3 separate regions of the Homo sapiens genome follow, and all the other regions are linked to region 1. Evidence: fine-mapped expression QTL. A gene starts in region 1. Each other region holds a variant in brackets. All regions are shown on one strand. Distances are between the middles of the regions. Region 1 holds the start of SLC7A5 (solute carrier family 7 member 5). Region 2 overlaps CA5A (carbonic anhydrase 5A). Region 3 holds the start of LOC102724467 (a long non-coding RNA gene).

Region 1 (8,175 bases):
CCGCCTCCCACGTTCATGCCATTCTCCTGCCTCAGCCTCCCGAGTAGCTGGGACTACAGGCGCCCACCACCACGCCCAGCTAATTTTTTTGTATTTTTGGTAGAGACGGGGTTTCACCATGTTGGCCAGGCTGGTCTTAAACTCCTGACCTCAAGTGATCTGCCTGCTTCGGCCTCCCAAAGTGCTGGGATTACAGGCATGAGCCACCGCACTCGGCCAATGTTTATATTTTTAGTAGAGATGGGGTTTCACCATGTTGGCCAGGCTGGTCTTTAACTCATGACCTCGAGATCCCCCCGCCTCGGCCTCCCAAAGTTCCCAAATCGCTGGGATTACAAGTGTGAGCCACCGCGCCCAACCAATTTAAACATTTTCTGGTTGACAATTGTTTGAGTTTGTTGTCTAAAGACCTGGGATTGTTGCCGAGCATGGTGGCTCACGCCTGTAATCCCAGCACTTTGGGAGGCCGAGGTGGGCAGATCACCAGGAGTTCGAGACCAGCGTGGTCAACCTGGTGGAACCCAGCCTCTACTAAAAATACAAAAATTAGCCAGGTGTGGTGGCAGGTGCCTGTAATCCCAGCTACTCGGGAGGCTGAGGCAGGAGAATCACTTGATCCCGGGAGGCAGAGGTTGCAGTGAGCCAAGATCGTGCCATTGCACTCCAGCCAGGGCGACAGTGAGACTCTGTCTCAAAAAAAAAAAGAAAAACACAAAAGACCTGGGATCAGTAGAAAGCAATGTTTGGAGGCCGGGCACAGTGGCTCACACCTGTAATCCCAGCACTCTGGGAGGCCAAGGCGGGCGGATCACGAGGTCAGGAGATGGAGACCATCCTGACTAACACGGTGAAACCCCGTTTGTACTAAAAATACAAAAAAATTAGCCGGGCGTGGTGGCAGGCGCCTGTAGTCCCAGCTACTCTGGAGGCTGAGGCAGGAGAATCACTTGAACCCAGGAGGCGGAGCTTGCAGTGAGCCGAGATCGCGCCACCACACTCTAGCCTGGGCGATAAGTGAGACAAGAAAGAAAGAAAGAGAGAAAGAGAGAAAGAGAGAGAGAGAGAGAGAGAGAGAGAAAGAAAGGAAGGAAGGAAGGAAGGAAGGAAGGAAGGAAGGAAGGAAGGAAGGAAGAAAGAAAGAAAGAAAGAAAGAAAGAAAGAAAGAAAGAAAGAAAGAAAGAAAGGAAGGAAGGAATGTTTGGGTTGTGGTGAGGCTGTGGAGATGAAAGCTGTATCATGCAGATGAAGCTTTTAGCTAGGAGGCTTCAAAGAGAACAGGCTGTAAAATGTTAATCTTTAAGTCTGATAGACTTCAAGTATGTGTTGGTGTTAGTGCTGGAGAGGTCTAAAGAGGCCGTCCAACCCCCGATTCTCTTCCTGGCCCAAACCAGTCTTTCAGGTTAAATGTTAAGAGCCCTGGCTGAGGAGGAAGTCTGTTTAGATGTCTGGGGTGGCCCTTAGAATTTTATTTTTGGTTTACAGGGTTTACCAGGTAAGTCGTTTTCCTGGGAAAAAGAACGAGTTGAAAGGAAGAGCAAGGATCCGCTCCGGACCTCACTCCTATATTTTGCTGAGATGAAAACCACAATCCCTGCACTGCGAGACTCATCTCATAATTAGAAAACAAAGGATTATCCACCGGGTTCTCTCCCCTCGCCCTGTGGCCTTGCTGCTCCCCTGCAGTTGCTCCAAATGACAAAATAATGACGGGTTCGCCTTGTGAGAGAGGGTGGCCTGCTCAACTCCACGCTGGCGCTCTGAGGGGGGCAGAAGATGCCTCGTCTCATTTATGTTGCAAACAGCCTTAAAAAGGACCTGCAGGGCGCTGGGCGTGGTGGCTCACGCCTGTAATCCCAGCACTTTGGGAGGCTGAGGCGGGCGGATCACGAGATCAGGAGATTGGGACCATCCTGGCTAACCCCAATTCTACTAAAAATACAAAAAATAAAAAATTAGCCGAGCATGGTGGCGGGTGCCTGTAATCCCAGCTACTCCGGAGGCTGAGGCAGGAGAATTGCTTGAACCCGGGAGGCGGAGGTTGCAGTGAGTTGAGACTGTGCCACTGCACTCCAGCCTGGGTGACAGAGTGAGACTCCGTTTCAAAAAAAAAAAAAAGAAAAGAAAGTATTCTCCCAACCAGCTCAAGCGAGAGTGCCACAACTTTTTTTTCTTTTCTTTCTTTCTTTTTTTTAACCTCTGAAAATACACAACATGTGATAAATTACTGACTGGAGCTGAAAAGACCATTGTCCTGCCTCTGTAAAAATCAAAACGCTGCCGAATCTTTCCAACAGATGGCACTCTTTGCTAAGATTCTAGAGTCATAGCTTTCAGGCGAAGGCGTTTCAGGGCCGGCATCAGGGACGTCTGAGAGGAGTAGATTTGCTGGATAAATCTAGAATGTTGTCATATGAAAACCCAGTAAAAACCGACAGAGGTGGCGTAATAGCTGTGTGACTTGAACACGCTCATGGCTGTTGTCACCCTTCCTGCTTAAGGGCTCCAGCACTTGCCAGGAGCCTGGCTCTGGGGGCACCAACCATGACTTGCACCAACTGTGCAGGGCCCCCTCTGTGCCGGTGGGGACCCCTGCACCTCCCTTATTAATTCTCACTCACCCTGGGCTCTCAGCTCCAGGTACCACCTCAGAAAAGTCTATCTGGACCTGCCTGGTCCCTGTCGCTGTCGCTGGCTCACCCTGTCATGTCCTTGGCTTATCATGGTTGTAATTTTATGCTTTGGGGTATGACTGTTGGTTGCCTTTCTTGTTACTCAAAGAAGAATGGTGGAATGATTAAAAGTACCATATAAGTTCAGAGTCAAAAGGACAGCTCCCAGGCTACTTGCTGGCCGGACAAGCGAGGTAACCCTACCAAGCCTCAGCTTCCTTATTTGCAAAATGGCTCTAACTGGCACCTACCCTATTGCATAAGAAGCTGTCTAGGGGAGGACTCAGTGAGCACTCGGTGAGTTTGCCCAGCCATGGTGGTACTGTCTCCTTCCCTCTGCAGGCACAGCGGGAAGAATAGGGCAGATGGAGGGGTCTCTGCACCTTCCACAGCCAGCAATGTGGACGGCAGATTACAAGTTAGTATCTGTGTGACCTCCGCACTCCCCCGCCTGTGGCTGCCTGGGCTGCTGAGATTTCGCTCGGTTTTATCACCGCAGAGGAATGCCCGACATACCGGGGGGCGAGCAAGGTCCAGAATGACAAGCCCTGGCATTCCTCAGCCGCCCCCTCCCTGGGGTGGGGCCTGGACATTCCTGGCTGCAGCTAGAGGTCCCAGCACGACAGGGATTCTGACCCCCCTCCACCACGGCTATTGTTCAGAATTCTGTGGATTCCAGAGGCATCTGCCCAGCAGACTGTCTTGCTGTGAACACCCAGCTCTGCAACCGGTGTTTGCGTGTTTGCCCTGGGAGGCTGAACGCTCACCCAGAACAAAGGCCTCCCCACATGCCTGCTGTGAGCTTCCAAGGACTCGTTTGCACACACGCCAAGGAACCCCGGGGTGGGGTGATACTGAGGAGCTTCCTCCCTGACCCACACACACCCTTTGAACAGGTCTTTGGCCGCTCACCAGTCTGGTCAATCTCGGGGCAGTATTTATATTCCTTCCCATTTCCAGGCCTAGGAGCCTTGGCATCCTGCTCTCGCCTCTAACTGAAATTACCTCTCAACCCTTTTTAGCTAAGATGCCTCTCGCATTCCCTAGGAATAACAAGCTTTAAAGCCCCTTCACACTGAAGCCTGCCTTTGAATTCCCCAGGTAGATTTGGGGGTGGGGGTCTTATGGCTCCCAGCGAACCCCCGGTTCTGTTGATTAAATTGAGCTCAGGCAGATTGCTGGCTTCCCAAAGCCTGTGTTATTACTGCTTCTCAAAGCTACGGGCACCGGATCGCCGTCTTTGGCAAGATTCTTTTGGGATACAATGGGAATTACTGGGTGGCCTCGGTTCGGTTCTTCCCTCGTCCCAGTTCGCGGCTCACCAGCCCCACTGATGCAGCCCCCAGGCTGGAAGGAGGCTGCAGGAGCTTCCCCTCAGGTCATCCTCTCATCCCTCCCCCGTGCCCCAGGAGCTGGTTGTGGGGGCGGTTCCATCCCCTCGGCCCATCCGGGACAGGAGCCTAGGTTCCCTTCGGGGGGTACCCCAAACTCCATCCTTGGCCTCAGGCCAGCCCTGGTGCACTGCCCGCTCCCAGGCTTGACGAGAGGCTGCGGGCCAGTGGGTGAAGGGGCGCGCCCTGACTGCCAGGCCCCGCCCAGGCGCATCCGGGAGGACGGGCTGGGATGACGCGGGCGCCGGGAGGGGGGAGGTCGCGAGGCCGGGGTCTCCATGGCGCAGGAGGACTGGGGCCTTCGAGGACCACGCGGGCCTGGGAATAGCCCGCCAGGCTGGGCCGGACGACGCACGTGCTCCGAGCTGGGCCGAGGGGGCGGGGCTGAGGGACGGGGCCGGGCCACGGGGCGGGGAGGAGCCGCGGACGGTGGGCGGGGCCGGCGGGCCGGGGCCTAAAAGGCGGCGCGGGCGGGGTTCCTGACGCAGCTGCGGGCGGCGGGCGGCGCGCACACTGCTCGCTGGGCCGCGGCTCCCGGGTGTCCCAGGCCCGGCCGGTGCGCAGAGCATGGCGGGTGCGGGCCCGAAGCGGCGCGCGCTAGCGGCGCCGGCGGCCGAGGAGAAGGAAGAGGCGCGGGAGAAGATGCTGGCCGCCAAGAGCGCGGACGGCTCGGCGCCGGCAGGCGAGGGCGAGGGCGTGACCCTGCAGCGGAACATCACGCTGCTCAACGGCGTGGCCATCATCGTGGGGACCATTATCGGCTCGGGCATCTTCGTGACGCCCACGGGCGTGCTCAAGGAGGCAGGCTCGCCGGGGCTGGCGCTGGTGGTGTGGGCCGCGTGCGGCGTCTTCTCCATCGTGGGCGCGCTCTGCTACGCGGAGCTCGGCACCACCATCTCCAAATCGGGCGGCGACTACGCCTACATGCTGGAGGTCTACGGCTCGCTGCCCGCCTTCCTCAAGCTCTGGATCGAGCTGCTCATCATCCGGCCTTCATCGCAGTACATCGTGGCCCTGGTCTTCGCCACCTACCTGCTCAAGCCGCTCTTCCCCACCTGCCCGGTGCCCGAGGAGGCAGCCAAGCTCGTGGCCTGCCTCTGCGTGCGTGAGTACGGGGCGCGGGCCGGGGGTTGGGAGGTCGTAGTCTCTGGGTCCCTGCATCCTTGCATCACTACGCCCCTGGCTCCCACATCTCTACATCTTTACGTTCCTGGACCATCCCGGCAGTTCTAGGCTAAGGTCATTGGTCCCAGAAACCACGTGCGTTTCTTTCATTCATTCTTTTACACTTCTCCCCACAGGCTGGGAATATCTTCAGTGACGGGACAGCAGGGTCCCTGCCCTGCCCTTCGGTGGGCATTCCATTCCCCCACTTAAGCGGTTTAGGCAAGTGCCACCCTCCCGTTGGCCCCGCTGAGCAATACTCCCAGCCTCTTGCGTGGCACCCACGTGGAGTAACTGAGCAATCGGTTTACTGTTAGAGCTCCGATTGCTGACTGGTTGGTGAGAAGGAAATTGCAGTTAAAAAAAAAATCATTCATTTCTGCTCTCCACACCAGCTCGTCAGGAATCAGTGACACGGGCTGACTCATAAGAAAACAGTAGTAATAACATCGTGTGCGGGTAGTGACTGGTGCTGATTTAGGCTAAGGGATCCCCCCTGAGGGTTCCCAGTAGTGAGAGAGCGGAGCTTGGCTGCAGATTCAGTCTGTGTTGCAGTGAATGGACGTGCGGGTCCCAGGTTTCTCTGGGAAACAGCCATGGGGCTCCTGTTTTGGTGGGCATGGTGCTGGTGTGTTCTTCACCAGGCCAGAGATAACTGCTTTTCAAAATAGTTTTCTTTTTCTTTTTCTTTCTTTTTTTTTTTTTTTTTTGACACTGAGTCCCGCTCAGTCGCCCAGGCTGGAGTACAGTGGCACGATCTCGGCTCACCGCAAGCCCGCCTCCCAGGTTCATGCCATTCTCCTGGCTCAGCCTCCCGAGTAGCTGGGACTACAGGTGCCCGCCACTACGCCCGGGTAATTTTTTTTGTATTTTTAGTAGAGACGGCGTTTCACCGTGTTAGCCAGGATGGTCTCGATCTCCTGACCTTGTGATCCGCCCGCCTCGGCCTCCCAAAGTGCTGGGATTACAGGCGTGAGCCACCGTGCCCGGCCTCAAAATAGTTTTCTTGTGGGATTTCAGGGGGAAAATCACTTGTAGCAGATGCCACATGATTTGGTTGGGTGGCGTGGGAAGGTGGGTCTTGGCAATTCTCAGATTCATCCCATGGCATGGATCGGCCTGCATCTCAATAGTGTGTGTACACATTCAAGGTGGGAAGGGCTAATTTATAGTTGGGGTCTTGAGCCATGAAATCAGGGGAGTGGCTTCTGACTGGCAGGACCTGTTGGCGCTGTTTTCTGCCACACCGTACTTTGGGGGGGAGGGGGAGGGGGAGGCATTTCTTCATAAATGTGAGAATGCCCCGAGGGCAAGACTCAGCAGGGCTCTGTGTGGTTTCTCTGAGGCTCTGAGTCGAGCAGCCGCACCACCATGCAGGTCAAAGCCGGGAAAAATCGTAGCAGGACAGCAGTGGGGAGAGCCTGTGCCTTCCAGCTGGGCGTTGGAGATGTGAATGTAGGGGATGACTCTGATTTCTTTTTTTGTCATTAGAATTTCACTGGTTCAGTCTCCCTCCCGCCTAGGTACATGTCGGCCCGGTATGTAACGACATGGATAGTAGCTTACGCAGCCTGCACTCTTATCTTTAAAAAATGAACCCCTGGTTGGCTGGGTGTGATGGCCCACGCCTATAATCCCAGCACTTTGGGAGGCCGAGACGGGCGGATCTACCGAGGTCAGGAGTTCGAGACCAGCCTGACCAACATGGTGAAACCCCATCTCTACTAAAAATACAAAAATTAGCCGGGCAGAGTGGCTCACGCCTGTAATCCCAGCTGCTTATGAGTCTGAGGCATGCTCCGGGATGTGGAGGTTGCAGTGAGTTGAGATCCCGCCACTGCACTCCAGTCTGGGTGACAGAGCAAGCCTGTCTCAAAAAAAAAAAAGCAGCCCCTGGGTGCTGAGTCTCTGACTTCCTGCTGGTGCCAGGAGTGAGTCGTGGGAAATGCTTCATTGGCCACCAGGAAGGAGACGTAGGATGGGGCGCTGCCTAGTTTTCTCTTTCTAATAAAAATCACATCAGTCATACATGAATTCATCATCATTTAAAAATTCAAACCAGCCAGGCACTGTGGCTCACACCTGTAATCCCAGCACTTGGGAGGCCGAGGCAGGCGGATCACCTGAAGTCAGGAGTTCGAGACCAGCCTGGCCAACATGGTGAAACCCCATCTCTACTAAAAATACAAAAAATTAGCTGGGTGTGGTGGCAGATGCCTGTAATCCCAGCTACTCGGGAGGCTGAGGCAGGAGAATCACTAGAACCCAGGAGGTGGAGGTTGCAGTGAGCTGAGATCGCACCACTGCACTCCAGCCTGGGCAACAAGGCGAAACTCCATCTCAAAAAAAAAGCAAAAATCAGCTGGGCGTCATGGCGCACACCTGTAGTCCCAGCTACTCGGAGGCTGAGGCAGGAGAACTGCTTGAACCAAGCATGGTGCCACTGAGCTCCTGCCTGGGTGACACATTTCTCCTCCTTTACCACCCCCGACCCCCAGAGTTTCTGCGGCTGACAGTGTATGCTTCCGGAGCTGCTTCTGTTACAAATATATCGCTGGCCTATTTATTTAAAAGATCATAATGTACAACTTGTTCTCCACCTTTTTTTTAAAGCCTAAAATGGTTTTGCCATGTTCCCAGGCAGTACGCAGAGGCTGCCCTCTTTAGCTGCTAAGAAGACTTCCCTGTGTCGGCAGGAACAAGTGTGCTCACCGCACCCCCGCCCCCCCATAGAACCCTGTGGAGGGCATTTGGGGTTTCCCAGCTTTGTGCAAATGGGAAAAGGGTATGTGGTTTTTTGCTTTTTGTTTTTGATTTTGTTTTGAGACAGAGTCTGTGTCTGTTGCCCAGGCTCGTTGCTCACTGCAACCTCTGCTTCCTGGGTTTAAACGATTCTCCTGCCTCAACCTCCGGAGCTTAGATTACAGGCATGTGCCTCAGCCTCCCAATTT
Region 2 (8,175 bases), 26 kb before region 1:
GCCTTCCAGGTTCAAGTGATTCTCCTGCCTCAACCTCATGAGTAGCTGGAAGTACCGGCGCCCACCACCATGCCTGGCTAATTTTTGTATTTTTAGTAGAGACGGGATTTCACCATGTTGGCCAGGCTGGTGTCAAACTCCTGACCTCAAGTGATCTGCCCACCTTGGCCTCCCAAATTGCTGGGATTACCGGCGTGAACCACCGCACCTGGCCGAGTTAGACCTTTGAGAAATTAAAAGACCTTAAGAGGCTGGGTGCGGTGGCTCACGCCTGTAATCCTAGCACTTTGGGAGGCCAAGGCGGGCTTATCACTTGAGGTCAGGTGTTCAAAACCAGCCTGGCCAACATGATAAAACCTCATCTCTACTAAAAATACAAAAATTAGCCAGGCGTGGTGGCGGGTGCCTGTAATCCCAGCTACTCAGGAGGCTGAGGCAGGAGAATTGCTTGAATCTGGGCGGTGGAGGTTGCAGTGAGCTCAGATTGTGCCACTACACTCCAGGCCGAGTGACACAGCGAGACTCATCTCAAAAAAAAAAAAAAAAAAAAAAAAAAGACCTTAGGAGGTAAAAGGCCCAGCCTTGGGAGCAAGAGTCTGTGCTTCATGGGCCAGGGAATGGGAAGAGACTTGAACAACTCTCTCGCCTAGAGGCTCCTAGCCTAGGACTTCTGGGAGCTTCTCCCATAGCACAGTGTATCAGAGAGCCCCACAGTTGGACTCCTGGGTTCAGAGCCCAGATCCACCACTCCTGAGCTGCGCACCTCTGAGCCTCAGCTTCCTCGCCTGTGAAATGGAGATATTAAACATCCACAGTAGCCCAGGTATGGTGGCTCACACATGTAACCCCAGCACTTAGGGAGACTGAGGTGAATAGATCACCTGAGGTCAGGAGTTCAAGACCAGCCTGGCCAACATGGCAAAACCCCGTCTCTACTAAAAATACAAAAATTAGCTGGGTATCGTGGCACACTCCTGTAATCCCAGCTACTCAGGAGGCTGAGGCAGGAGAATCGCTTGAACCCAGGAGACGGAGGTTGCAGTGAGCCGAGATCGTGCCACTGCACTCCAGTCTGGGTGACAGCTCGAGAATCCGTCTCCAAAAAAAAAAAAAAAAAAAAAATCCACACTAGAGCAGCATTCTCACCATGTAATGGAATAAGGAGCATGTCTGGTTCTTGGTGAAATGTGCAGTTGAGTTTAAGGCCCAGCTGTGGCCAACACTCACACACTCAAGTCTGCTGTGGAAGGCACAGGCTGCTGCTGCCCGTCACGAAACGAAAATCCACCAGCCCAATCACTAAGGTTAAAATCGCTTTTTGTTGCTGCGGGTGCTTTCTGTCAGGTGATTCCCAGAGAGAGCTATTACCTTCTGGGAGCCCATGAAATTTTAGAATGATGGCCTTGTGATGGAAAATGCTAGAAGTGTGGTTGAATCTAATTCCTGATTGGTGGGCAGTGCAGGGCAGGACAGGGCCATGGTGGCCTCAGGCTCAAGGGCAGATGGCCTTGGCTTCAAATCCCAGCTCTGCCACTCCCCCGCGGACTCAGCAGTTCTCACCCAGGGACGGGCTCACCTGCAGCTTCTGGGCTGCTTTCCTGGTTTCCTCCAGTTAAGGAACAAGTTGTCCTGAATTAGGGCAGGAAAGACCAGAGTCACGTAGTCCCCATCATCTCTCCTGGTTCCAGGCTGGTCCGGGCCCTGCTGTGGGACTGACTCGGCAGAGACCCTCCAGGAATGCCTGCCACGGTCACTCCCTGGGGACCCAGCTGGCTTCTATGCAGTGCTCAGGGCTCCAAGGGTGCATTTCCAGAAAGAGCCAGATGGACACGATGTCCTTTTCTGCCCTGGCTTCCAGAGTCACAAAGCACTGCTCCTGCGGCATCCTGTTTACCACTCCCGTCAGGAGCACCTGCCCAGGCTCAGGGCAAGGGGACATCACCCTACACCTCGGCGGAAGGGGTTCAAAGAAGCGACAGCCCTCCACATAAATTATCACACTGAATCTTCCAATCACTCCACGGGGCAGGGCCTGTGATTCATCTGTCTTGCACACACAGGAAAACCAAAGCTCAGAGAGGCAGAGAAGGCCTTGCCCGAGCACACAGCTGGCAGGTGAAGAGCCCGTTTTTAAACCCAGGAAGTGGGTCCACGCAGCCTGAAGTCCCAGTCATCCTGGCGCCCACCTCCCGCATGCAGTCAGAACCCAGGCTGAGCTCCAGCCCCTGCTGCACATTTCTGAGCTTTTCAGCAGCTTAGAGGGAAACACAGGCAGTGTCTGTAACCAAAACCACATCAGGCGCTGCCTGGAAGCCTGGACCCCCACCCCCACCCCCAGCACCATCCCATCTGCACAGGCCCCTACCAGTGCCGACCTGTCACTATGCACTCAGCTCCCAGCACGCAGGCACAGCCCCAGTGTGGTCCTGGTGACCCCGGGCAGACAATTCCAGAATGGAGACCTCAAGGCTTCGCCTTTGACCCTCTCACCATAGCCAGAAGTTTTGGCAAAAACTGCCCACAGAGGGTCCCCACCCTCCATGCCTGGACAAGCCGCAAGCTCCTCAGGCTGCTGGGGTCCCCCCTCCTCCCTGCCTTCGCAACAGTCAGAGCTACCGGGGAATTGGCTGCCTTGTGGAGGTGGAAACAGCCCACCAGGTCCAGGGGATCCAGGGAACGGCTCTGTGCCCTGTGGGGGCTCTTCTAGCTTTGGCAGCAGCAGCGGCAGCACCTACTGAGCCCCACGCCCACGTGGCAGGCACTGATGGAAGCCCATTACCGCCACCACACTGCCTGTCGTACACCTGGGGAAACTGAGACTCTAAGAGGACAAAGCAAGGGCGGAGTTAGGCTGGGTGGGGCTTGACGCTCATAAAATGTGGGGTCCTGTTTAAGAGAAAGAAGACAAAACCAGGAACAGAGCGTGGCTCACGCCTATAATCCCAGCACTGTGGGAGGCTGAGGCGGGCGGATCACCTGAGGTCAGGAGTTTGAGACGAGCCTGACCAACATAGAGAAACCCCATCTCTATTAAAAACAGAAAAGTAGCCAGGCGTGATGGCGCATGCGTGTAATCCCAGCTACTAGGGAGGCTAAGGCAGGAGAATCGCTTGAACCTGGGCGGTGGAGGTTGTGGTGAGCCGAGATCGTGCCATTGCACTCCAGCCTGAGCAACAAGAGTGAAACTCTGTCTCAAAAACAATAAATAAATAAAAGAAAAGTGGAACAAGTCACCAACCCACTTCCACCAGCAAAGGCTTGTGGTGCTTTCCACAGGTAGCTGGGCCATCCGTGCTCAGATAATGGATGTGATGGTCTTCAGCCTCATTGGTGTGCTCACCGGTGTCCCATTCTAGCTGCCTGAGGATCACCACATGCATAAAGGAAGGGCCCTGATTTGCTTTGGGGGCCCTGAGGGGGAGCAGTT[T/C]TCTGTAACCACATGGCTGCTCCAGCCCTCATGCATCTTAGAGACAGGACAGGAACTCCTGGGGACGATGAGGCAACACACAGGCATCCTCTTCTCAGCCCAAGGCAGAAAGCTTAATTGGCAAGAAACCTACCCGCAGTGGCATGGCTGGAGCCTGCCACTCCCCTGACTGATTCCTGCAGCCTTGGGGAGGGAAGGAAGAGCCCGCACCTCGGAACGGGCCAGGCCTCAGTGGCCCTGACTGGCAACGTGGCTTTGGGCAAGTTTTTTATATCTGTCTGTCTATCTTCATCAGTAAACTAGAAATACTTCTCAAAGGGTTGTTCTGAAGATTTGAAGTAGTTGCTCAGAAAGTGACTGGCACATCTGTGCCCTGGGGATGTGTGGCAGGCAGGAGGAGACGGACGTCTCACTGCACACCCGCCTGTTACCCACGTGCACCAGACTGATGTCTCACTGCACACCCGCCTGTTACCCACATGCACAAGCAGTCTGCTCCTTCACAGCCCAGCTAGAGCGTGCAATGGGATGTCAACCCAGCTAGACCATGCAGTGAGATATTACTTGGCAATCAGAAAGGACACAGCTCTAACTCATGCTGCGGTGTGGGTGAGCCTCAAAAGCGCCGTGCTGAGTGAGAGACACAAGACACAAATGTTCCACATGTTACATGACTCAGTTCCTATGAAACCCACAGAGACAGAAGCAGCAGGGCGGGGGTGGGGACCATAGCTAAAAAGTACCAAGCTTCCCCCTTGAGGTGGAAGTTCTAAAATTGACTTGGGATGGCTGCACAACTGTGAATATACCCAAAACCATAGAACTGTACCCTTCAATTTTTATTTACTTTTTTTGTTTTTTGTTTTTTGTTTTCTTTTTGAGATGGAGTTTCACTCTTGTTGCCCAGGCTGGAGTGCAATGGCATGAGCTCAGCTCACTGCAACCTCTGCCTCCCGGGTTTAAGTGATTCTCCTGCCTCAGCCTCCCGAGTAGCTGGGATTACAGGCATGCGCCACCACGCCTGGCTAATTTTGTATTTTTAGTAGAGACATGGTTTCGCCATGTTGGTCAGGCTGGTCTCGAACTCCTGACCTCAGGTGATCCATCCGCCTCGGCCTCCCAAAGTGCTGGGATTACAGGCGTGAGCCACCGTGCCCAGCCTATTTACTTATTTTAAGAAAGGATCTCACTCCGTCACCGAGGCTAGAGTGCAGTGGTATGATCACAGCTCACTGCAGCCTCAACCTCCGGGGCTCAAGCCATCCTCCCACCTCAGCCTCCCAACTACCTGGGACCACAGGCGTGCACCACTGCACCTGGCTAGTTTTTGTATTTTTTGTAGAGTCAGGGTCTCGTTATGTTGCTTAGGCTGGTCTCAAACTCCTGGCCTCAAGCAGTCCTCCCACATCGGCCTCCCAAAGTGCTGGGATTACAGACATGATCCATTGCGCCCAACCAGGCTGTACACTTTAGATGGGAGAGTTGCATGGTATGTGAATTCTATCACAATAATGCTGTGGGTTTTGCTGCTGCTGCTGTTGTTTGAGACAGAGTCTCTCTCTCTGTTGCCCAGGCTGGAGTGCAATGGTGCCATCTCGGCTCACTGCAACCTCTGCATCCTGTGCCAAAGCAGTTCCTGTGTCTCAGTCTCCCGAGCAGCTGCGATGACAGGCACCTGCCACCATGCCTGGCTAATTTTTGTATTTTTAGTAGAGATGGGGTTTCGCCATGTTGGTCAGGCTGGTCTTGAACTCCTGACTTCAGGTGATCTGCCTGCCTTGGCCTCCCAAAATGCTGCGATTACAGGCATGAGCCACTGTGCCCAGCCTATAATGCTGTTTTTTTTTTTTTAATTAACTGGATAATTATAAACGTGAACATGCGTGCATAGAACTGATGCATGTGTCTGCCAGTGTGGACACTCCCGGGCTTCCTTCTGGTAGCTCAGCCACCTCTCTTGACCCTGACCCTCACTGCTTGATGTTAGGAGACAAGCCCAAGGCATCTGGGTTGCCAGCTTCCACCTTGGAAGGCCAGGGCCCAGCAAAGTCAAGGTGATGTGATGTGGCTGAGCAGGGAGGCCATCTTCCTTGCAGACAGGGACTCTGTCACTTTGGACTGGACTCTTGTCCCACAGTGCTGGCCAGGGGCAGGTGCAGAGCTATGCTTGGTTGGCATGGGACGCTGATGAGGGCTGTGTTGCGGCCAGGCCCAACCACCGTGAGCTGAGATCATGCCACGGCACTCCAGCCTGGAAGACAGAGTGAGACTCTGCCTCAAAAAAAATAAAAAAAATAAAAAGTTATAAATAGAACTACCCTATGATTCAGCAATCACACACTTCTGGGTATATATCCAAAAGAGCTGGCTGGGCACAGTGGCTTATGCCTGTAATCCCAATATTTTGAGAAGCCAAGGCAGGAGGATCGCTTGAGCCCAGGAGTTGGAGAACAGCTTGGGCAAGATGGCAAGACCCCCTGGCTACAAACAATTAATTTTAAACCCTGGTGTGGTGTCCTAGCTACTTGGGAAACTGAGGCGGGGGGATCGCTTGAGCCCAGGAATTAGAGCCTGCAGTGAGCTATGATGGCATCATTGCACTCCTGCCTGGGTGACAAAGTAAGACCCTGACTCTTTTTGTTTTTTGGCTGTGAGTGTATTCAATGCAAAATAATCCTCTCTGATTTTACTGAGGTAGCTGGCCATGTCCACGACCAAATCTGCCTTTAAACTGGAATTCGGTTGCTGACCCAGCCCGAGCCTCGGCTATCTTGTCGGCACCAGGGGCACAGCACTCCGTCTGTAGGTATGTCTGTCAGCTTCCCCTCTTGTGAGTCTTGCAGGTCGCCCACCCTCCAGACCTTTAGGCCGAGGCCTGCCAGTCCCTGGACGGCTGCAGCATAGGGTGGCAGGCACAGTTTCCAGGGACAGATGAAGGTAATCACGGAGATACTGGATGCCCTCATTGGTAAGGTAGCAGTAGAAATGTCTCCAGGCAAGCCGGGCGTGGTGGCTCACGCCTGTAATCCCAACACTTTGGGAGGCCGAGGTGGGCAGATCACGAGGTCAGGAGATCGAGACCATCCTGACTAATATGGTGAAACCCCGTCTCTACTAAAAATATAAAAAATTAGCTGGTCGCGATGGCGTGAAGATGTAGTCCCAGCTACTAGGGAGGCTGAGGCAGGAGGATCGCTGGAACCCAGGAAGCAGAGGCTGCAGTGAGCTGAGATCGCACCACTGCACTCCAGCCTGGAGACTCTGTCTGAAAAAAAAAAGAAAGAAAGAAAGAAAGAAAGGAAGAAAGAAAGAAATGTCTCTAGGCAAACTGTTCCTTCAGGCAGCCTCGGGGCTTGAGAGACTGCATGGCCTTCGTGACATGAAGGTTGGGCACATTCTTGTCTGCCATCTCCGGGTGCTTAGGCATGTGGACATCCTTCTTGGCCACCATGACTCCCTCCTTAAAAAGGAGCCCATAGGCCGGGCACAGTGGCTCACCCCAGCACTTTGGGAGGCCAAGGCGGGTGGATCATCCGAGGTCAGGAGTTCAAGACCAGCCTGGCTAACATGGTGAGACCCTGTCTCTACTAAAAATACAAAAATTAGCTGGGCGTGGTGGCAGGCGCTGGAGGCTGAGGCAGGAGAATCGCTTGAACCTGGGAGGCAGAGGTTGCGGTGAGCCAAGATCACACCATTGCACTCCAGCCTGGGCAACAAGAGCAAAACTCCATCTCGAAAAAAAAAAAAAAAAGGTTAAGATGGTAAATTTTATGTTATGTATATTTTATCACAATAAAAAGTAATATTTTTTGCAGCCAAGGTATGCTAAAAGAAATGGCTTTATTTTTATTTTTATTATTAATTAATTTATTATTATTATTATTATTATTATTATTATTATTATTATTATTATTTGAGACAGAGTCTCACTCTGTTGCCCAGGCTGGAGTGCAGTGGCATGATCTCGGCTCACTGCAACCTCTGCCTCCTGGGCTCAAGCGATTCTCCTGCCTCAGCCTCCTGAGTAGCTGGGACTACAGGCGCCCACCACCACATCTGGATAATTTTTGTATTTTTAGTAGAGACAGGGTTTCACCACGTTGACCAGGCTGGTCTCGAACTCCTGACCTCAAGTGATGCACCCGCCTCGGCCTCCCAAAGTGCTGAGATTACAGGGGTGAGCTACTGCGCCCCAAGAAATGACTTCAAAAGGAAAAATGTGAGCACCAACGTAAGCTGGTGTAATGTAACGTAATTCCCACCAATGTAAGTTGGCAGGAATCCTTGCTCTGTATAGAAGGGTCACATTTTCTCATCACTGCTTGCAAGTGTGACAGCAGTGGCCTCATGGCCTTATCTGGGGGAAAGCACTTCCTTCCAAGCACCATGAAGGCCTCACGTGCTGAGACAAGATGGAAGCTCCTAGTCTCCCCTGAGGACTGACACGTCCTGTGCTTCTCGGTCTCTCAGGACGCGCGGGCGGCCATGCGCCCCTTCGACCCCTCCACTCTGCTGCCCACCTGCTGGGATTACTGGACCTACGCGGGCTCGCTCACCACCCCGCCGCTGACCGAGTCGGTCACCTGGATCATCCAGAAGGAGCCCGTTGAAGTGGCCCCAAGCCAGGTGAGCCGTGCCCGTAACTGGCACGATGGCGCTTCATGGAAGGCGTCCCTCTTGCTTGGCAGCGTCACTAAGATGCTGCATGAGAGCGTTGTGGAGTTATATATATTCTTTCATGCATTTGG
Region 3 (8,175 bases), 87 kb after region 1:
AAAAATAATTTATTTACATTCACATGTAATAGGATTATCACTGACAGAGTGGTTTTCTCTGCATTAGTGGGTGAGTGCAAGGGGACTCTGGTTATGTTTAAAGAGGCTGGGGTCTACATCCTCTGTGAACTCTCAGAAATCACTGCTCAGGGCCTCCTTTCAAGACGCACCAAGCAAAACCGATCTTCAAGTACAAAGGGCATAGACAAAACATCGACGTGCAAGAACTCATTATTCCCATAAGCCTTTGTATTTTTTTTTTTTTTTTTTTGAGATGGAGTCACACTGTGTCGCCCAGGCTGGAATACAGTGGCTCAATGTCGGCTCACTGCAACCTCGGCCTCCTGGGTTCAATTGATTCTCCTGCCTCAGCCTCCTGAGTAGTTGGGACTAGGGGTGTGCGCCACCACACCTAGCTAATTTTTGTATTTTTACTAGAGACAAAGTTTCACTGTGCTGGCCAGGCTGGTTTTGAACTTCTGACTTCAGGTGATTTGCCCGCCTTGGCCTCCCAAAGTGCTGCAATTACAGGTGTGAGCCACAGTATCCAGCCTCCTTTTTTTTTTTTTTTTTTTGAGACAGAGTTCTACTTTGTCTCCCCCAGGCTGGAGTGCAATGGCATGATCTCGGCTCACTGCAACCTCTGTCTCCCGGACTCAAGGAATTCTCATGCCTCAGCCTTAGAGTACCTGGGATTACAGATGCCTGCCACCGCGCCCGGCTAACTTTTTTATTTTTAGTAGAGACGGGGTTTTTGCCATGTTGGCCAGGCTGGTTTTGAACTCCTGACCTCAGGTGACCCACCCACCTTGGCCTCTCAAAGTGCTGGGATTACAGGCATGAGCCACTGTACCTGGTCCCTATATGCCTTTTAAGGAACCTCCTAGAGGCTGGGTTTCAGACAACCAAAGTGACAAGATATCAAGAGAAGGACTGCTGGGAGTGGGAGATACACGTGCATAGCTGTTTGAAGGACTAGGACAAAATGAGAGATGTGATCATATGCAATGACTCTGTGATTTGACAATGTAGAAATTATGCACATTTAAAATAGGGGTTAAGGCCGGGCGCACTGGCTCATGCCTGTAATCCCAGCACTTTGGGAGGCCGAGGCAGGCAGATCACCTAAGGTTGGGAGTTCAAGACCAGCCTGACCAACATGGAGAAACCCCATCTCCACTAAAAATACAAAATTAGCCAGGCGTGGTGGCACATGCCTGTAATTCCAGCTACTCGGGAGGCTGAGGCAGGAGAATCGCTTGAATCTGGGAGGTGGAGGTTGTAGTGAGCCGAGATTGTGCCATTGTACTCCTGCCTGGGCAACAAGAGTGAAACTCCATCCCCCCCCACCCACCAAAAAGAAGTAAGATGATGTCGGTTACATTAGATCTCTTTCACTGCTGCAGTCATAATTTTGCAAAGGCGGCTTCAGCTTCTGCACCCAGCCATGGCAGGGAGAAAGAACACGGAAAGCAAGACATAGTGGTCTCCAGTTTTATCCCTGGAGCCTGGGAGAGAGCGGGAGTGGGTTTGGCCCGTGAGGTAGGAGCTCCTTCACTCCCAGCACACGGCAGCGTCAGGGCCCCCAGAGACAGCTCTGGAGGCAACGTCCCCAACCCAGCACTCTGGCCCCATCAGAAACCAGGGAGTGGCCCTACTTCTTCCAAGGTTCTGGCCTGAAATCTGAGGGTGTCGCAGCCAGAAGGTGCAGTGTGGTTTGCAGGTCACCACAGAGAAAATGGGACTTGGGTGTGAGGATGTTCTGTTTCTCCAATTCTGCCTCGAAGGGCCAAGTTACTTTGGGCGAGAGATTCGGGAACTCCAGGAGAGCTATGCCAACTTCTCCATGGCCCTTCAAAGGCATGAGGGATATTCTTGCAGTCACCAGTGCAGAGAAGCCATGCTCAGAGCCTGAGCCGTGTTGGCCTCGTTTTCTAATCACGGTGAAATGTGGATTGCCCTTGGAATGCCACCACCCACATTCCGGCTGCTGTGAGGTCAGCGGCCCCTGAGCAGGAAAAATGGACAACTTGCCGTCCCCTGTGGCTCAGCGGTGATAGCCTACTCTCTCCTAGCAGAGAGAGAGCCGGACAGACTCCATTTTAGTTTCTTCACCTGCAGTCCCCTTTCATCTCCCTCCCTTAAGGCATAACTAGTGTAAACTGACTCAAAGCACGTCCAGAAATGCACCTACTGATAAGATACAGAGGCAAGCTGCACCAGCAGCTCCTCGGGACGCGCTCGGTGGATGGCACCCGAAGCCCCTGCATTTATCTCTTTGTGATAGTTTAAGCCCCTGCACCTGGAACTGTTTATTTTTTGTAACCAATTAATTTTTTTTTTTTGAGATGGAGTCTCGCTCTGTCGCCCAGGCTGGAGTGCAGTGGCGCGATCTTGGCTCACTGCAAGCTCTGCCTCCCGGGTTCAAGCCATTCTCCTGCCTCAGCCTCCCGAGTAGCTGGGACTACAGGCGCCCGCCACCACGCCCGGCTAATTTTTTGTATTTTTAGTAGAGACGGGGTTTCATCACGTTAGCCAGGATGGTCTCAATCTCCTGACCTCATGATCCACCCGCCTCGGCCTCCCAAAGTGCTGGGATTACAGGCTTAAGCCACCGCGCCCGGCCATGTAACCAATTAAATTTTTAACTTTTTGCCAGTTCTGCTTCTGTAAAAATTGCTTCAGCTAAAATCCTGCCTCCGCTGTTTAGACCACGGTATAAAAACAAAACTAGTCCCTTCCTCAGGGCTGAGAGAATTTTGAGCATTAGCTGCCTCTTGGTCGCTGGCTAATAAAAGACTCTTTAATTTGTCTCAAAGTGTGGCGTTTCTCTGTAACTCGCTTGGTCACAACACGACGATGGGAGGCGTGTTGGATTCTGAGTCCTGGGAGTTTGTTGTGGGTTGGCTTTATTTTGTGTATTCTTATCTGTGGATGTTTTCGGTTGGCTTGAGTGGAACCCCGTCATCCTTGCACAGTTGGATGGGCAAGCGCCTCGGGAAGGTCTCCCTTTCATTTTCTGGGTAAAGAACTCACTTTGTCGGCATCTGGATGCCACGTGGCCTGAGTCTCCTGTGACCTCTGTGCCGGTGCTTTGGCTGTGGGGGGTTGGGAGAGGCTGGAGGGTGGGTGGCACTGAACCAGCCTGGCCTGGGCACTCTGGGAGTGTGCACTTCACAGTGAGGGGTCACAGGCACAGAAGGAGCGAAGGGATGGGACTCCCAAAGAGGCTTCAATCCCCATGACTACCAAGACTCTTTTTTTTTCTGTGACGGAGTCTCGCTCTGTTGCCCAGGCTGGAGTGCAGTAGCGTAATCTCGGCTCACTGCAACCTCCCTTCCTGGGTTCAAGTGATTCTCCGGCCTCAGCCTCCCGAGTAGCTGGGATTACAGGCACGCACCACCATGCCCAGCAAATTTTTGTATTTCTGGGAGAGACAGGGTTTCACCATGTTGTCCAGGCTGGTCTCAAACTCCTGACCTCAAGTAATCCGCCTGCCTTGACTTCCCAAAGTGCTGGGATTACAGGGGTGAGCCACTGCGCCCGGCCTTTGACTACCAAGGCTCTAGATGGTTCCCATCCAGAGAACTTGGCATCTGCACATATCAGCAACGGGCGATACTGCAGCAAGACCTGCGGTTTATCCTAAGTAGTAAACGGCTGATATTTAGAATCTCGTGAGCAAATCAACTGCAGAGACAAGGGACCCATGGGGGTAAAGGGAGGGGAAGGCCAGAGTCAGGTCCATGGGGAGAGCACCAAAGGCAGCTCCCACTTCTTCAGCTTGTGAAAGGAAAATAAATCTTGGAAATCTTGTGGCCCTCAAATCACTAAGCTAAAGGGAAAAGTCAATCTGGGAGCTGCTTAAGGCAAAACTGCCTCCCATTCTATTCAGTCACACCTCTGCTCACTGAGATACATACATATCTGATGGCGTCCTTTGGAAAGGCTAATCAGAAATTTCAAAAGAATGCAACGGTTTGTCTCTCCCCGACCTGCCACCTGGAAGCCCCCCTCCCTGCTTGAGTTGTCCTGCCTCTTTGTACGGAACCAATGTACATCTTACATATATTGATTGATGTCTCCATGTCTCCCTAAAACGTGTAAAACCAAACCGTGCCCCAGCCACCTTGGGTACATGTCCTCAGGACCCCCTGAGGCTGTGTTACCGGTGGACGGTGTCCAGGTTCTTGGCATCTTGGTGTTGTCCAACAAATAATTGCACAAAATGCACAAACAAAGCAAAAAGAGTGAGGCAGCAAAAGCAGAGAGTTATTGAAAACGAAAGTACAAGGCCGGGCGCGGTGGCTCACACCTGTGATCCCAG[G/C]ATTTTGGGAGGCCGAGGTGGGCGGATCACAAGGTCAGGAGATCAAGACCATCCTGGCCAACACGGTAAAACCTCGTCTCTACTAAAAAATACAAAAAATTAGCCAGGCGTTGTGGCGGGCACCTATAGTCCCAGCTACTCGGGAGGCTGAGGCAGGAGAATGGCGTGAACCTGGGAGGCGGAGCTTGCAGTGAGCTGAGATCACGCCATTGCACTCCAGCCTGGGCGACAGAGCGAGACTCCACCTCAAAAAAAAAAAAAAAAAAGAAAACGAGAAAGTACATTCCACAAGGTAGGAGTGGGCCCCAGCATAGGGGCTCAAGAAACTGGTTACAGAATTTTCTGGGATTTAAATACCCTCTAGAGGTTTCCATTGGTTGCTTGGTGTATGCCCTTTGTGAATGAAGAGGCTAAAGTGAAGTTACAAAGTCATTTACTTGGTGTACGCCCTGTGTAAATGAAGAGGATGAAGTAAAGTTACAAAGTCACTTACTCATTTGTCAATGAAATCATTTACGCTTCATTTACACAGATGCCCTATGTAAGTAAAGAGGATATTTCCTGTCATAGCTGAAGTGTTTCTATTTTATTTATTTATTTATTTTTGAGATGGAGTCTCTCCCTGTCATCCAGGCTGGTGTGCAGTGGCACGTTCTCAGCTCACTGCAACCTCCGCCTCCCAGGTTCAAGTGATTCTCCTGCCTCAGCCTCCTGAGTTGCTGGCATTACAGGCACCCACCACTACACCCAGCTAATTTTTGTATTTTTAGTAGTGACGGGGTTTCACCATGTTGTCCAGGCTGGTCTTGAACTCCTGACCTCAGGTGATCTGCCCGCCTGGCCTCCCAGAGTTCTGGGATTACAGGCGTGAGCCACTGTACCAAGCCCTTACATTTGATTTAGTCCTAGGCAGTCTCTCGGTTCCCTTCTTCCAGGATCTATTCTCCTGACTCAGCTGTGTCACAGTGCCTGTCTTTGACCTGGCAAAATAAGCTTTCTTCATTGATTGAGACCTGTCTCAGATTTTTGGGGTTCACAGGCTCCCAGGGCATTTAGGGTGCCACTGAGCACCACGACTCGGTGCGTTTCCTCCCAGCAGCAGGAGGCCACACACCTGGAGCTACACAGGGTGAGATGGGTTAGGGTCTAAAATCTCTGCATTGAAGAGTGAACCACATCTAAATGCAATGTTGTCTCCTGCGTAGGATCCTGGATGGGAACAGGAAAAGGATGTAAGTAGGAAAAGACCCAGGGAAATCCAAAGCAAGTCTGGGGTTTAGTTAATGGCAATATACCAATGTTGGTTGCTTAGTTTTGACCAATGTACCATTGTATGGAAGATGATCACTGGAGAACTTCAGGAACTATCTTAGCTGTCCTGCAAAGCTACGATTATCCCAAAAGAAAAAAATTATCAAAACAAGTAAATGAGGCTGGGCGCGGTGGCTCACACCTGTAATCTCAGCAGTTTGGGGGGCTGAGGCGGGTGGATCACTTGAGGTCAGGAGTTCAAGACTAGCCTGACCAACATGGTGAAACCCCGTCTCTACTAAAAATATAAAAATTAGCCAGGCATGGTAGTTCAGGCCTGTAATCCCAGCTACTCAGGAGGATGAGGCAGGAGAATCGCTTGAATCTGAGAGACAGAAGTTGCAGTGAGCCAAGATCGTGCCACTGCACTCCAGCCTGGGCGACAGAGTGAGACTCCATCTCAAAAAAAAAAAAAAAAAAAAAGGAAGTGAATAAAAAGCCACAGGAAATAGCTCCCGAAGGCTGAGCCTGTGGGGAGAGGGTGAAGGACTTGTGGGCAGAGGGAGGAAGGCGTGGGTGGAGGGAGGAAGGCAGACACAGGAAAGCTAGACTGGGTGCTCCACTGAGGGACATGTGTGGTTCTCTTTGCAGGAAGCAGAGCTCAGCTCTTGCCCTCTCACATCCTTTGAAGATGACCACCTTGAAGATTAGGATGAAAAGCAAACCCTCGGCTCCTGGCCTGAGCTCTTGGCAATCATGTCTCTCACCAGGCAGGAAGCAAAAGAAGATTGTTTCTGCACTCATTTGTTTTCAGAACAGTGGAGCAAACAGTCATTTACTGGTCTCCATAGACACTGAAGAGACACCAGGTGGCGGTGACTCTGCGGGTTGCAAATGTCCCCAGCGTCAGATTCATATTATTTCCCCTGACCCCCTCTGTCCTCTGTGGATGAGGAGAGCTGGGCAGAACACCTTGGTGGGGTCTCAGGGCTCCAGCGGTGACCACTGCTGGGTCGGACCAGCAAATGGAAAGGAGCCCACGTGTGCTCTCTGTGGCCCGGGCGGTAAAGAGGAGGTGGATCCCGGGGCTGTGGGTGAGAGCAGTGGGAATACCAGGTACTATTTCTTCCCTCCATTAATCCTCCCAAAAGATTGCTATGTCTGCACCAAAGTCCCTGCTTAAAACTTTGGAACAAGAATGTAGCTTCAACGGCCAGGCGTGGTGGTTCATGCCTGTAATCCCAATGCTTTGGGAGGCCAAGGCAGGCGGATCACCTGAGGTCTGGAGTTTGAGACCAGCCTGGCCAACATGGAGAAACCCTGTCTCAGGCCGGGCACGGTGGCTCACGCCTGTAATCCCAACACTTTGGGAGGCCGAGGCGGGTGGATCACCTGAGGTCGGGAGTTTGAGGCTAGCCTGACCAACGTGGAGAAACCCCATCTCTACTAAAAATACAAAAAAATCAGCCAGATATGGTGGTGCATGCCTGTAGTCCCAGCTACTCGGGAGGCTGAGGCAGGAGAATCACTCGAACCCAGGAGGCAGAGGTTGTGGTGAGCCAAGATCATGCCATTGCACTCCAGCCTGGGCAACAAGAGTGAAACTGCGTCTCCAAAAAAAAAAAAAAAAAGAAAAAAGAAACCCTGTCTGTACTAAAAATACAAAATTAGCAGGGTGTGGTGGCGCATGCCTGTAATCCCAGCTACTTGGGAGGCTGAGGCAGGAGAATTGCTTGAACTTGGGAAGCAGAGGTTGCGGTGAGCCGAGGTCGTGGCATTGCATTCCAGCCTGGGCAACAAGAGTGAGACTCCCTCTCAAAAAAAAAAAAAAAAAAAGGAATGTAGCTTCTTGTACATTATTGACCTGGGGGTAGGGGTGAATTTGGGATTTCGGGACATTGCTTCAGAGGGCATCCTGACTCCCTCTCGGCCAGGTGAGACCTGGTGGCAGGGCCCCAGCGGCTGCCTGGGGACCAACCACCCGGCTGAGTGCCGGAGCAGCCAGCTCTGACGTCCGCGACCAGAAAGGACGCCAGATGCTTCTGTTGACGTTGACAAAGGGCTTTGCCAGGAGGCTCAGGCCCGCCTGCGGGCTGGTCCCCATCCTTCCTCTTAGACCCCGCGAGGGTGATGCAACCTTCGCATACTGCGGTTGCGAGGCTCCAAGGCCGCCTTCTGCGCGGGAGGAGTGACCCCTGGCGGCCGACGCAGACATTGCGGGCTTGGTGCTTGGACTCAACTTCTGAGCTGTGTTGCATCAGCCAACGGGCCCTAAGGAAGCTGAATAATGCCTCAGGCTTCCTGCCACCCTGCAGGCCGGGAAGTTGGCAGGTGTGGCGGGTGGGGTGAGGGGTCCGAGTCCCATGGCCTAGGACGTTCATTTCTCCGAGGCTCGGTCTCTCCTCTGGTGGGACCATGTCTCGAAGAGCCCCTGGCTTGGCTTCTGGAGCTGGCGGCCAGGTAGGAGCCCCCAGGAAAGCTCCATCGGCTGCTGCTGAGCCGAGCTCTCCTGAACCCGGCCTGCGCTGCCCCCAGCGCACCTGGACCACAGACCCAAGTGATGTGATATGAAGAGGGAATGAAACGCTGACAGGGAG

Evidence for each region.
Region 2: its variant is fine-mapped to the expression of SLC7A5 in blood mononuclear cells (TOPMed, PIP above 0.99).
Region 3: its variant is fine-mapped to the expression of SLC7A5 in whole blood (INTERVAL, PIP above 0.99).

Annotation. Positions count from the first base shown.
Region 1 is chr16:87,865,875-87,874,049 of GRCh38, reverse strand. It overlaps SLC7A5 (solute carrier family 7 member 5), which reads left to right and starts at 4,543. Exons shown (of 10, transcript NM_003486.7): 1 at 4,543-5,165. The coding sequence starts at 4,628. RefSeq lists a cis regulatory region at 2,180-2,506, enhancers at 2,468-3,229, 2,586-3,785, 3,230-3,989, 7,595-7,644 and a silencer at 4,230-4,579.
Region 2 is chr16:87,891,677-87,899,851 of GRCh38, reverse strand. It overlaps CA5A (carbonic anhydrase 5A), which reads left to right. Exons shown (of 7, transcript NM_001739.2): 6 at 7,898-8,053. Among named protein-coding and RNA genes, the nearest start is that of SLC7A5, 26 kb to the right of the region's middle. RefSeq lists an enhancer at 1,318-2,017. The variant T/C (reference allele first, on the strand shown) is at 3,428.
Region 3 is chr16:87,778,850-87,787,024 of GRCh38, reverse strand. It overlaps LOC102724467 (a long non-coding RNA gene), which reads left to right and starts at 7,877. Exons shown (of 4, transcript NR_120309.1): 1 at 7,877-8,175. RefSeq lists enhancers at 6,172-6,271, 6,342-6,401, 6,427-7,292, 7,423-7,512, 7,843-7,942 and 2 more. The variant G/C (reference allele first, on the strand shown) is at 4,328.